Linked DNA regions of Homo sapiens. The protein of the gene in region 1 binds, or shares a complex with, the protein of each later gene. Each region holds a gene or a part of one and is shown on either strand. Other genes may lie near its edges.

The links. Proteins that work in one complex are often made in the same cells at the same time.
Region 2: the proteins of BAK1 (region 1) and PXT1 are in contact, whole or in part, in a crystal structure (PDB 8GSV), measured with the Homo sapiens proteins. Residues at the interface, in NP_001179.1 of Homo sapiens: Ile81, Gly82, Asp84, Ile85, Asn86, Arg88, Tyr89, Glu92, Phe93, Met96, Leu97, His99, Leu100, Tyr110, Lys113, Ile114, Ser117, Leu118, Glu120, Ser121, Asn124, Trp125, Gly126, Arg127, Val129, Ala130, Phe134, Asn182; in NP_694535.2 of Homo sapiens: Ile78, Ile79, His80, Lys81, Leu82, Ala83, Met84, Gln85, Leu86, Arg87, His88, Ile89, Gly90, Asp91, Asn92, Ile93, Asp94, Arg96, Met97.

What each region holds. Positions count from the first base shown.
Region 1 is NC_000006.12:33,577,277-33,584,241, forward strand, and holds the start of BAK1 (bcl-2 homologous antagonist/killer), read right to left. Parts: upstream 3,001-6,965; 5' UTR 2,749-3,000; intron 633-2,748; exon of another isoform or gene 522-632; intron 360-521; 5' UTR 329-359; coding exon 259-328; intron 41-258; exon of another isoform or gene 23-40; intron 1-22. UniProt on the Homo sapiens protein: Plays a role in the mitochondrial apoptotic process. Upon arrival of cell death signals, promotes mitochondrial outer membrane (MOM) permeabilization by oligomerizing to form pores within the MOM.
Region 2 is NC_000006.12:36,432,821-36,439,854, forward strand, and holds part of PXT1 (peroxisomal testis-specific protein 1), read right to left. Parts: intron 6,067-7,034; 5' UTR 5,947-6,066; intron 1-5,946.

The sequences.
Region 1 (6,965 bases):
GCCCCGGTGGCACTGTGCCTACCTTACACTCACTTCCTGGCCTCTCCCAACCTCCAGGCCCTCCCCAGTCCAGACTCCTCCCCCTCCTGGGCTTAACCTTGACAGCAGCTCCAGCCTCTGAGCCCGTGGGTGGGGAAGAGTATTCCCCACCCACAGTGGGTGAACCGAGGCGAAGGAGCCTGCCTGAGTCCTGCTCCTTCCATCCTCACGACAGCACTCATGGTTATGGGATGGGTGAGGGGGCAGGAAGACCCTTACCAGAAGCAGAGGGCAGGGCAGGCTCTCCGCACTCCTGCCTGGGAGGACCTGGGCCTTGCCCCGAAGCCATTTTTCAGGTCTCAGTGGAGGACGGGATCAGCCTGCGGGGAAGGGCGAGAAAAAGCAGAGATGGGGGTGAGCACAGACCTGTGACTGGGGACCCCATACAGGTTGCCATGTCCACATAGGAGAGAGGATCCCCCATTCCCAGAAAGGCCCTTAGTCCTCTGGGACTTTGGCCAGGCCGGTCTCAAACTCCTGACCTCGTGAGTCTGCCTCGGCCATCCACAGTGCTGGGATTACAGGTGTGAGCCACCGTGCCTGGCCTCCTCTGGGACTTTTTATTCTTACTCCAGCATGGGTCCCAGTGAAGTCTGCTGGGAGGAAACAACTTACTGAACACTCCCTCTTTGAGGGAGACAGGGTAAGAAGGTGAGGCAGCCAAGGGCAGACTGAGGTATCTGCACCATCGAGGAGGGTGTGGCTGCAGCAGTGCCCGCTGGCTCTCAAGTTCATGCCACTCCTGGGGCAAGAGCCTGGGGGGTTTTTAGCTGTTCCTGGGGCCTCCTGCAGCCCACCCAGCACATGCTTATTGCAAGCGAGCCACTGCCCAGCCAATGGCCCATGAAGGCTGTCCTCAGAGGCCCTACTTCCCTCTGGCTGGCCAGAACACACCTGTTTTTTAACTCTGGGCTGTTAGCCGCAAACATTTCCTGAGAGCCTAAGATATACTCTCCCACTTAGGAGCACTCTGTGGGTGGTGAACACTGGAAACTCACATGAACCCAGCAGGGTGAGCGCCATCATACCCACTTTACAGGCAGGAAAAGTGAGGCACAAAGAGTTGAGTGCCCGAGGTCACATCGTTAGTCACGGAAAGTCAGGTTGTTTGTCTGAATCTCCGTGAGTCCATGTACTCAACACGCATGCAAGATTTCTTTTCCAGTTTGTGGACCTCAGAGTGTGTTCTTTCTCAGGGCAACTTTCCCTATTTACCTCCTGTCTGTGCCTTCCCCACTGCTGCCTTGCAGTGACCGGAGGGAGCCCTCAGGATCAGGGCCTTCTTTGAAGCCCCATAACCTGCCTCGTACTCCCACCACACACCTGGTCTTCTGTCCCCGGCCCCAATTTTCCTCTTTGCCTGGTCCTGACCGCAGCCCCAACCTGCTGTGACCCCTCATCAGGGCGAGTGTTTCCTGGATGTCAGCTGTTTCACTTTCAGTTTGCACCCCTCCCAGAGCCCCATTTCCCCAGGCAGCCTCCAGCCCTCAGAAGGAGAGCGCCCTCCTCCTATCCCAGAGGGAGGGGGTGTGCAGCCCCACCCTGGGCCAAGCACACAGCCCCACCCCCACCGCCCAGGGCCTGGGGACCTTCGCCCACCCTCCTTCCGCTAGGCCTGGGAGTGTTTTCGAAAGTGCCCCAAGAGCTCTCAAGAAGGGGTGGAGGAGGGCTGGACCACCTGTGCCCTCACCCAGCTCCCCACTCCTCCTCGATCTGCCGGACAGGGACAGGGTGAAGGCAGACCTTCCTCTCCTCCACCTCTAGGGGCAAGGCCTTGTTAAAACAGAACTTTGCAGCCGGGCATAGTGGCCCACGAGGTCAGAAGTTCAAGACCAGCTTGGCCAACATAATGAAACCCCATCTCTACTAAAAATACAAAAATTAGCTGGGCATGGTGGCGTGCGCCTGTAGTCCCAGCTACTCGGGAGGCTGAGGCAGGAGAATCGCTTGAACCTTGGAGGCGGAGGTTGCGGTCAGCCGAGATTGCGCCACTGCACTCCAGCCTGGGCAACAGAGCGAGACTCCATTTCAAAAAACAAAAAAAAAGAGTTTTGCTTGCCTCCCACCCCCCGTAGCTCCTTACATAAGATGGCCTTCCTTCTTCCCCAGTCTCCAGGACCCGGCACCCCCAGGACAGTAGGGCTGGAGGATGCTGACTGCACCTCCAACTCCCTCTACCAACACCCCAGGCTTCCGAGGGGAGCAGGTAGAGCCTCAGAACACCCACCAAGGCCAGCAACCTATGCTGACTCAGGCCTAGCTCTGCCTCCCCCATCCAAGTGGCCTAAATTCCCGGTGAGGGGAGCCACCCCCGACTTCCTGGGCTTGCTGGGCCCCGATGAATGTTGCCCAGGGATACATGCCTGGCCAGGCCCTGGACCCAGTCTAGGGATGTTGGGCAGCAGCAAGCGCTGAGAAAGTTCTCTCTCTGCCCTTGACCTTGGCTCTGACCTCCACTCCCATCTCCCAGACTGTTAAAGGACCCAGTTCTTACAGTTCTCCGGCATCCAGGGCTGGGCCAAGAGGGGAAGCTGTGAGGGGCAGCCAGAGGCAGGCATGGCAGGATCAGGTCCCCAGCCGGGGCGGCAGACCTGCCCAGGGAAGCCTTGAGCTTCCCCTTCCCCACCCGGCTCCCGGCAGGCTCCCTGCCCCACCCTGGGGCTGGGGCTGCTGAGATCTGGGAGGATGGACAAGACCCTTCCAGCTTACCTGCCGGGATCCTGGCCCAACCCGGGTGGCTCAGCAGGGTGGAGATGGAGGTCCCGAGGGGCTGGCGGCTGCTGCTCCCAGGGGCTGAGTGGGAGCCCAGTTTCCAGGAATGGGCGTCAGTGCATTCCCGGCATCTGGATGTAGCCTTTACTTGTCCCTGTGCAGCCCGAGGGACCCGCGAGACTCCAGTGATCATAGAGGTGCCAGCGGCACCCGGCTCCAATCAGCTCCCTCTAGAGGAAGTTGCTCTGTGGCCACCGGATGCAGACGCACAGGCCGACAGCCTGTAGGGTGATCTGGGTGGGCCAGGCCCAGGAGCATGTCCCGCCCACTTTCCCCACCCCACCTCCCAGGCAGGCAGGGCGGCTGTCAGTGGCCCACTGCTTTTCCCATCCCTGATTCTCAATCCTTGTCTTTGATCTTCTCCCCCACCTCTACATCAATCAATACCAATAAAAAACCCAGGGTGAGAAGTTTCTTAAGCACTGCTGCATGCCTGGCACTTTAGCAACTATTTGTCTCATTGGATCTTCTCAGCAACTCTTGTAAGTGAGTGCTGTTGACAATACCCATTCAGATGAACAGAGGCTCAGCTGGGTTAATCATCAGTTCTGGGCCAGGCGCGGTGGCTCACGCCTATAATCCCAGCACCTTGGGAGGCTGAGGCAGGCAGATCACGAGGTCAAGAGATCGAGACCATTCTGGCTAACATGGTGAAACCCCGTCTCTACTAAAAATACAAAAAATTAGCTGGGTGTGGTGGCGGGCGCCTGTAATCCCAGCTAGTTGGAAGGCTGAGGCAGGAGAATCCCTTGAACCTGGGAGGTGGAGGTTGCAGTAAACCAGGATTGCGCCATTGCACTCCAGCCCTGGTGACAGTGCAAGACTCCATCTCAAAAAAAATAAATAGTAATAATCAGTTCTGTAGTCGCATTGGGGAATACTAATACTAGATTGAGATTCAACCTGCAATTTAGACCTGTGCACCATGCACCTTGGTGGTCTCTGGATGTTTGAAATCCTGAAGGTGATAGTCAAGTAAACGGAGATTAAAACTCAATAGAGGCTGGGCCCAGTGGCTCACGCCTGTAATCCCAACACTTTGGAAGGCTGAGGTGGGAGGATTGCTTGAGCCCAGGAGTTCAAGACCAGCCTGGGCAACAAAGTGAGACCATGTCTCTACAAAAAAAAATTAGAAATTAGCTGGGTATGGTAGTGCACACCTGTGCATTTGGTGGTCCCAGCTACCTAGGAGGCTGAGGCAGGAGGATCACCTGAGCACAGGAAGTCGAGGCCACAGTGAGCCATGTTTGCACCACTGCATTCCGCCCTGGGCAACAGAGCAAGACCTTGTCTCAACAACAACAAAAAAGGCAGCCAGCTGCGGTGTGTCACGCCTAGAATCCCATCCCAGCCATTTGGGAGGCCAAGGCAAGAGGATCGCTTGAGGCCAGGTGCAGGAGTTCCAGGCCAGCCTGGGCAACAGCAATACCCTGCTTATACCAAAAAAAAAAAAAAAAAAAAAAAAAATTAGCAAGGCATGGTGTTGTATGCCTGTGGTCTTAGCTACTGGGGAGGCTGAGGTGGGAGGATTGCTTGAGCCCAGGAGGTCGAGGCTGCAGTAAGCTATGATTGCACCAGGGCAACAGAGGGAGAGTCTGTCTCTAGAAAAAAAAAAAAAAAAAAAAAAAAGGCCGGGCACGGTGGCTCACGCCTGTAATCCCATCCCAGCACTTTGGGAGCCCGAGGCAGGCAGATCACCTGAGGTCAGGAGTTCAAGACCAGCTTGCCTAACATGGCGAAACCCCGTCTCTTTTAAAAATACACAAAAGGGAGGCCAAGGCAGGTGGATCACCTGAGGTCAGGAGATTGAGACCATCCTGGCTAACATGGTGAAACCCCGTCTCTACTAAAAATACAAAAAAATTAGCCGGGCATGGTGGCAGGCGCCTGTAGTCCCAGCTACATGGGAGGCTGAGGCAGGAGAATGGCGTGAACTCAGGAGGCAGAGCTTGCAGTGAGCCGAGATCACGCCACTGCACTCCAGCCTGGGTGACAGAATGAGACTCCGTCTCAAAAAAAAAAAAAAAAAATTGGTCGGGCACGGTGGCTCACGCCTGTAATCCCAGCACTTTGGGAGGCCGAGGCTGGCTGATCACCTGAGGTTGGAAGTTCGAGACCAGCCTGACCAACGTGGAGAAACTCCACCCCTATTAAAAATACAAAATTAGCCAGGCGTGGTGGCGCATGCCTGTAATCCCAGCTACTCTGGAGGCTGAGGCAGGAGAATTGCTTGAACCCGGGAGGCAGAGTTGTGGTAAGCTGCGATTGCGCCATTGCACTCCAGCCTGGTCAACAAGAGCGAAACTCCATCTCAAAAAATAATAATAATAATAAATAAATAAAATAAAGCCGGTTGTGGTGGCGTGCGCCTATAATCCCAGCTACTTGGGAGGTTGAGGCAGGAGAATTGCTGAACCCAGGAGGCGGAGGTTGCAGTGAGCTGAGATTGTACCACTGCACTCCAGCCTGGGTGACAAGAGTGAAACCCCATCTCAAAAAAATAAAATAAAAATAGGGCCGGGCACGGTGGCTCATGCCTGTAATCCCAGCACTTTGGGAAGCCGAGGTAGGTGGATCACAAGGTCAAGAGGTCGAGACCATCCTGGCCAACATGGTGAAACCCTGTCTCTACTAAAAATACAAAAATTAGCCGGGCGTGATGGCGGGTACCTGTAGTCCCAGCTACTCAGGAGGCTGAGGCAGGAGAATCGCTTGAAGCCAGGAGGCGGAGGTTGCAGTGAGCCAAGATTGTGCCACTGCACTCCTGCCTGGCGACAGAGCTAGACTCCATCTCAAGAAATTAAAAATAAAAATAAAAACAAGGCCGGGCCCGGTGGCTCTCGCCTGTAATCCCAGCACTTTGGGAGGCCGAGGCGGGTGGATCACGAGGTCAGGAGATCGAGACCATCCTGGCTAACACGGTGAAACCCCATCTCTACTAAAAATACAAAAAATTAGCTGGGCGCCGTAGCAAGCGCCTATAGTTCCAGCTGCTTGGGAGGCTGAGGCAGGAGAATGGCGTGAACCCAGGAGGCAGAGCTTGCAGTGAGCCGAGATAGCCCACTGCACTCCAGCCTGGGCGACAGAGCGAGACTCTGTCTCAAAAAAATAAATAAATAAAAATAAAAACAAATAAATAAATAGACTTAGTGGGGTCTGTGCTACCACCTGGACACAAAACCTGGATGCTAAGAGGGAAGACAGATACTGTCTGGCTGCTGGGAGTGTTCTTGAGGACAGAACAAACCCAGGAAGGACAGAGGTGTGTGCAGTCCTCAATAGCCCCTGCCCTCAGGGTTCAGTTCCCTCCCTGCCTCTCCCTGTTTGCTCCCTGCCAAGCTTCCTGGGGCTCTCACATCTTTTCCTCCAAGTCTCCACCCCCTTTCCCCCAAAATCCCTGCCTGCCCCCCACACCTCCTTCCCTGCTTCATCAAACCCCTGCCCCCTCTACCTCCAACTAATCTCCCCCAACCTCCCATCCTCCCCAGTCTTTGCTTCCCAGAATTCTGGGAAGTTTCCAACTGGAGGTTTTAATTTGAAAACTCTTCCTGTTCTTAAGCAGTTGGTCCTGGGGTGGCTGTTACAGGATCTGAATTGGGGACCTTCTCAGGATGGAGGCCCCAGCTCCGAAGCCCTGATCATGAATTTCAGGCTGCTCCTCCATGTTCCGCCACCAGGGTGCCATTTCCCTGATGATGAGCCAAGAGGGACATGTGAGGAGGAGGGGGCCGGGACCATCTGCCTTGCCGCCCCACCCCTTCTCTGTGGCCATACCCAGGGGCTTCTCAAAACGGTCACAGCAGCCTCCCTTAAAGCTGGGCATGGGGCGTATGGTGACCTACACCTGCAAGAGCAAGAAGGCCTGGCGGAGAGGTGAAGTCAGTTCTGCCCATAGCAAGCCAGGAGGTGTTGGGCAACCTGCCTGAGAAGGAGGGGAAGGAGCCAGCAGGGGACGCCTCTGGGAAAACAGGGGCCTCAGACAGGTGAGGGGCTGGAATTGGGGGGTACCCAGGTTGGCAAGGCCTGGGACAGAGGTACTGAGAAGAGGCCTGGACATGAGATGGGGGAAGGGCATGGGCCTGAGATGGGGGACCCATGCTGGGGAGGGTCTGGGGAGGGAGGCCTTGGGTGGGTAAAGGTCTGGAACAGGGCAC
Region 2 (7,034 bases), 2.9 Mb from region 1:
TTGGCATAGATCAGAGTGAGAGTCAGACATATTACTGAAAAGAAAACACCCAGGCCTCTTCTCCTGCATAGATGTAGAACTTCATAACCAGGTTCTACTCTCTAGCAGGAAAAAAAAAAAAAGGTACTTCTTAGGGGAAAAAACCTGACATATTGGTGGCTCCCATAGAAAAAGCCTCCAGTGAATTCTTTCAATTGATAAGACTCAAGCATATACTTAGAATTTCCAATTAGCTTTTAGGACTTTATTCTTAAAATATAAATGTACAAAAATCATCGGATACTAGAGGAAAATCTGTAACATAAAAAAAATTCTAAACCTCAAGCATGGAGGAATCAGGGGGGAAAAGAATCACAGAAAACTGAGACAATGCAGGGAGCATAAAAATACTTCAAAGAAATTATATCATCAGAGAAATATGATATCCATGAAACAAGAACAGGATGCTAAAAGAAGAAACACTATAAGAATAAACAAGAGCAGCTGGAAATTACAAATACTATAATTAGAAATCTGTAAAAAATATATACATTGTGAAAGATAAAGACAAAAAAAGTGCTCCAAAAGAGAATGACCTTGGAGATTGTTATAATTCAGGAAAAGTCATGAGAAGATTCTACAAGAAAACTGCTCTGATGTCCTTAAGAAATCAGTGTCATGGGGGAACAAAATGGTAGGCAGATGGGGAAGGGCATTGCTCTACATGAAAAGAGGCTAGGCCGGGCACGGTGGTTCACGCCTGTAATCCCAGCATTTTGGGAGGCCGAGGCGGGTGGATCACGAGGTCAGCAGATCGAGACCATCCTGGCTAACATGATGAAACCTGTCTCTACCAAAAAATACAAAAAAAAAAAATTAGCCAGGCGTGGTGGCAGGCACCTGTAGTCTCAGCTTCTCGGGAGGCTGAGGCAGGAGAATGGCATGAACCTGGGAGGCAGAGATTGCGGTGAGCTCTGCACTCCACTGCACTCCAGCCTGGGTGACAGAACAAGACTCTGTCTCAGGAAAAAAAAAAAAAAAGAAAAGAAAAGAGGCTAAAGAGATAAGAAAGCCAAATGCAATTCTGAAGTGAGATGTCATATTGTCCGCCACTTACTTTCAAATAGTTCAGCAAAATAGATAAATATAAAAATAAAGAAAATATGAGAAAATGTTAACAACTGTTTAATCTATTATAAGTAGTGGATATACTAGTGTTGGCTGTATTTGTCTTAAACTTCCTTTATATTTGAAATTTTTCATAATAAATAGCCATAGAAATAAAGCAAATATTGGGAGCTCACTGCAGTGAGCTATGATCATGCCAGTGCACTCCAGCCTGGTTGACAGAGTAAGACCCTGTCTCTAAAAAAAAAGAAAAAGAAAAAGAAAAGAAACAAAGAAATGCAAAAAAACATCCCAGAACAAAAGGACATATGTCTCCAGGATGAAAAGGCCCAGCATGACGAATGGAAAAGACCTAAACCAATATATACACACACATCTTGGAATGTACACACACAGCAAAATGTTGGTGATTATTGCATCTAAGTAATGGGTATACTTGTTGAAATACTATACCCTCAACTTTTTATGTTTGAAATTTTTCATAATAAAAAAGTCAGGAGAGATCTAAAATTTAATAAAATTTTATGTTAATGTCTCTAAGAATTGTGGCCTATTTTGAAAAGCAATAAATAAATTAGTTGAATCCAACCAAATGAGGTAGCCATTATAGGTTCCAATCGTAATGGAACATTAATGACATAACTGAAATTCTCCTTAGTTTTGATGAAATAGTTGGGTGTATAAAGGCCAAATAAAATCAAATCTATACTTGTAATTTCCAAGAGAAGTTCGTTTATAAGAGAATCAATAATCATGCATATTTATAACATTATCAGGTCTACAATAGATGCTTAAGTACTTGAGAAGGTTTGTCAGTCAGACAATTCAGGTATATAAAGAAGAAATAAAATATTTGAAATGTCTGTGGTTTGAAAAGATTTGTCTTTAGTTAAGTGGCAAAAGCCCCTTTTCAATTGATTGCTAAAATTTGCTAGCCTTTTAACTAAAACAATAAAATGTATCAGCTGAAATGTTATAATTTTCTCTTTATGCCTCTTTTAACAGCTTAGGGAGATTAACTTTTCTGAAAGGTACTTTTATGTGATTGAAAATCACCCTTGAAGGTAATGAAAAACTCAATTGTCACAGAAGACAAATATGGACAATAAAAAAGATAAATTAGAGTATCTAGAAGTTACAATATCTGAATAATAAGAATTCCAGAAAAAAAAAAGAAAAAAGAAAAATTAGCAAAAGCTTTAGAGAAGAAATTATCAAAGAAACAAATGTGGCCAGGTGTGATGGCTCATGTCTTTAATCCCAGCATTTGGGAGGCTGAGGAGGGAAGATTGCTTCAGCCCAGAAGTTGGAGAACCCCATCTCTACAAAAAATTTTAAAAATTAACCAGGCCAGGTGCAATGGCTTACGCCTGTAATGCCAGCACTTCGAGAGGTCAAGGCAGGAGGATCGCTTGAGCCCAGAAGTTCAAGACCAGCCTGGCCAAGATAGGTAGACCCCCATCTCTACAAAAATTTTTTTTTTTTAATTAGCTGGACATGGTGCTCTGCTCCTGTAGTCCAGCTACTCAGGAGGCTGAGGCAGGAGGATACTTGAGCCCAGGAGTTCCAGGCCGCAGTGAGCTATGACCATGCCACTGCACTCTAGCCTGGGTGACAGAGTAAGACCCTGTCCCTAAGAAAAGAAAAGAAACAAACAAATGCAAGAAAACATCGCAGAACAAAAGAACAAAATATGTCTCCAGGATGAAAAGGCCCAGAACAACAAATGGAAAAGACCTAAACCAATATACACACACACATCTTGGAATTCATCAATGATAAACAGTAGATCCTAAAATCTTCCAGATTGAAAAAAATCAATTAAGAACAAACTTGATGGCACTATTGGAAGTTAGAAGACAGCAGAGCTTTCAAAATCCTGAGAGAAAATGTTTTCCAATCTAGACTGTACACCTACTCACACTAACAAACAAGTAAGACTAGAATAAACCCCCTTTTCCTGCAACATCTCAAAAAATTAACCTCCCTTGCATCAGGAAGCTAGTGGAGAAGGGAAGGGCTCTACCAAAAGAAAGGAGTAAGTCAACAGAGATGAAAGCAGGGATCCTGGAAAACAAGACTGTGCCATAAACTTTTTCAAAAAATAAACTGCTTAACAATGATTGGTTTTTAAATGATGTGCCTGGATTCATTTAATAAAAATTAATTAAAAAAAAAAGTAAGCCAAAAAAAAAAAAAAAAAAAGCCAGCATGATTGCAGAGTACTGAGTAAGTGGCACAAAATAAGAAAAGATACATAGGCAGGGGCCAAATCCTGCAGGGCTTTAGATTTTGTCCTAAAAAAAAAGTGAGAAACTCTTTAAGGAATTTAAACATAGGGATGACCTGATGGGATTTCTGTTTTAAAAGATCACTTTGGCTACTGGATGGAGGTGGTTTGGAAGCAGGCAAGAGACCACTGTAGTAATTCAATAATCCACTAGGACAGAAGCACTGGAGATGGAAAGGAGATAAATTTGAGATTTAGGAACTAGAATTGATTGATTAGAAAATGGGATGATAAGTAGAAAATAATCATGGATAATGCCAGGGTTTTGATGATTCCTTAAGTAAGTGGGTCATAGTGGCAGTTACTAAACCAGAGAGCACCAGCACGGAATTAACATTTTGCCTTGTTTGGTACTGGGTTGTATCTGGGGGAGGGATGCAATGGCAGGAAATGATGAGTTCAATTTTGGATATACTTAGTGTTTGAGGTATGTGAAAGTCATTCAAGTAAAGATGTTAAGTGGGCATTTGCCAATATGAATTTGGAGCTCAGAAGAGAGGTCAGGACTGGAAAAACAAATGTGAATCATTATCATAAGGAATATGAAAAATGCCATGTAAGTAAAAGGAACTCTCTTGTGTCCATTGGGAAATATTTATTAAATTCTTACTATGTGTCAGGCATCAAACTAGATGCAAGGTTACAACAGTGAACAAAAATTTCACAGTATGGGATATTTGATAAGTAGGCTTCAACTAGGGTGTACTAGTCTCTAGGGGGCATTGTTCAAAATTTTGGGGTGCAATTGTACAGTTACATTAATGTGAGGTTATATTCAAATATAGAGGCCAAGTGCAGTGGCTCATGCCTGTAATCCCAGCACTTTGGGAGGCTGAGGTGGGCGGATCACTTGAGGTTAGGAGTTCAAGACCAGCCTGGCCAACACGGTGAAACCCCTGTCTCTACTAAAAATACAAAAATTAGCCGGGCGTGGTGTCACGGGCCTATAATCCCAGCTACTTGGGAGGCTAAGGCAGGAGAATCGCTTGAACCTAGGAGGTGGAGGTTGCAGTGACCCGAGATTATACCACTGCACTCCAGCCTGAGCGACAGAGCGAGACTCCATCTCAAAACAAACAAACAAAACCAAAAAAAACCCAAATTTAATAGGTAGAGTCAGGTATGTCAGACCTCCTCCAATGCCTGTAAAGGTCCTGCCCTCCACAAAAAAATTGTCCTACATTCTGTATGTTGACTGTCCCTCTGGATATTCATGTAGGCAAAAAATCCAGTTATAATGATCTGAATCTAGAACTTGTCTGTTTCACATATAAACAAAAAATATTTTTTGTGTGGGTTTTTTTTTTTTTTTTGGAGATGGAGTCTTGCTCTGTCGCCCAGGCTGGAGTGCAATGGCGCGATCTCGGCTCACTGCAATCTCTGCCTCCTGGGTTCATGCCATTCTCCTGCCTCAGCCTCCTGAGTAGCTGGGACTACAGGCGCCCGCCACCATGCCTGGCTAATTTTTTAAAATATTTTTAGTAGAGACGGGGTTTCACCGTGTTAGCCAGGATGGTCTCGATCTCCTGACCTTGTGATCTGCCCTCCTCAGCCTCCCAATGTGCTGGGATTACAGGCGTGAGCCACCGTGCCCAGCCACTGCTTTTTTTTTTTTTTTTTTTTTTAGAGTCTTGCTCTGTCGTCCAGGCTGGAGTGCAGTGGCGCTATCTCGGCTCACTGCACACTCCACGTCCCGGGTTCAAGTGATTCTCCTACCTCAGCCTCCCGAGTAGCTGGGATTACAGGAACCTGCCACCACGCCCAGCTAATTTTTGTATTTTTAGTAGAGACGGGGTTTCACCATGTTGATCAGGCTGGTCTCGAACTCCTGACCTCAGGTGATCCACCTGCCTCGGCCTCCCAAAGTGCTGGGATTATAGGCGTGAGCCACCGAGCCCGGCCTATTAATGCTTTCTTATAAATGAGGCACATGTGTATCTTTTGTTGGAGTTTCAGTTGCTTTTGACCTGCCACTATTAACAATTTACCAGAATAATAAATTCTTTGTAAAATAATTTCACTTATTTTGCTAGTAATGTAGATTTGGGAATAATCTATTCTTTACCAGATCCCAATAAAATAAAACATATAATGACAAAGAGTAATATGGATATTTTACTGACTTTGTATTTTGGCAATGTTTCATGCCTCATTTGCCTGACAATTCATTGGATTAGTGCAACACTATGTTTTGTTGTTGTTGTTTGTTTGTTTTTTGTTTTTTGAGACTGAGTCTCGCTCTGTCGCCCAGGCTGGAGTGCAGTGGCGTGATCTTAGCTAACTGCAAGCTCCGCCTCCTGGGTTCACGCCATTCTCCCGCCTCAGCCTCCCGAGTACCGGGACTACAGGTGCCTGCCACCACGCCCGGCTAATTGTTTGTATTTTTAGTAGAGATGGGGTTTCACCGTGTTAGCCGGGATGGTCTTGATCTCCTGACCTCGTGATCCGCCCGCCTCGACCTCCCAAAGTGCTGGGATTACAGGCATGAGCCACTGCGCCCGGCAGGATTAGCGCAACACCATGTTTTAATGCAGTAAGTTCAGACTTACTTTTCCAAGTATGTTGAGCCCTCTTTATTTTCTGTATTTTCATGCTTGAGTTAATAAATTGCAAAGTTTCCCTCTTTTGTTTGCTTTGTTTTCCTTTATATACCATTTGTTGGAGGTTCTCTGTTTTTAAAGAGAGGGGGATGAAAAGTAAATTATCCCCTTGGGCTTGCGAAATAAAGTTTACCTATCTACTAAATAAATATCTCATAGCTTTCTGTGGTGGCTCAGTGGGTTATTGGAACTTTTTTTTTTTTGAGACGGAGTCTCGGTATCGCCCAGGTTGGAGCAGTGGTGCGATCCTGGCTCACTGCAACCTCCGCCTCCTGGGTTCAAGCAATTCTCCTGCCTCAGCCTCTCAAGTAGCTGGGATTACAGGCGCACCACCGCGCCCAGCTAATTTTTTGTATTTTTAGTAGAGACGGGGTTTCACCATGTTGGACAGGCTGGTCTCAAACTCCCGACCTCAGGTGATCCACCCGCCTTGGCCTCCCAAAGTACTGGGATTACAGGCGTCCGGCCTATTTTCTTTTCCAAATGCAGTTTATTTAAAACTCATATAAGGTGGCTGGGAGTGGTGGCTCACGCCTGTAATCCCAGCACTTTGGGAGGCGGAGGCGGGTGGATCATCTGAGGTCAGGAGTTGGAGAAGAGCCTGGCCAACCTGGTGAAACCCCATCTCTACTAAAAATAAAAAAAATTAGCTGGGCATAATGGCGCATGCCTGTAATCCCAGTTACTTGGGAGGCTGAGGTAGGATAATCGCTTGAATCCGGGAGGTGGAGGTAGCAGTGAACAGAGATCACGCCATTGCACTCAAGCCTGGGCGACAGAGGGAGACTCCATCTCAAAACAACAACAACAACACTCATATAAGGCTGAAAAAAAAAAAAAAAAAACAACTAAGCATTCTCAGTATTAGGTTCAAGAATGAGACTTGTGTGTTCATAAACAAGAGGTCATGTGAGCTGCCAGAGCCAGTACATGGGATACGAAGGCCAGAGCCTGTTTGTAAACCATTAACAGGAATAACAAGAGATAAACATTATCAGTTTACACCCAGCCTCCGCCGAAACCCAGCGTAACACATT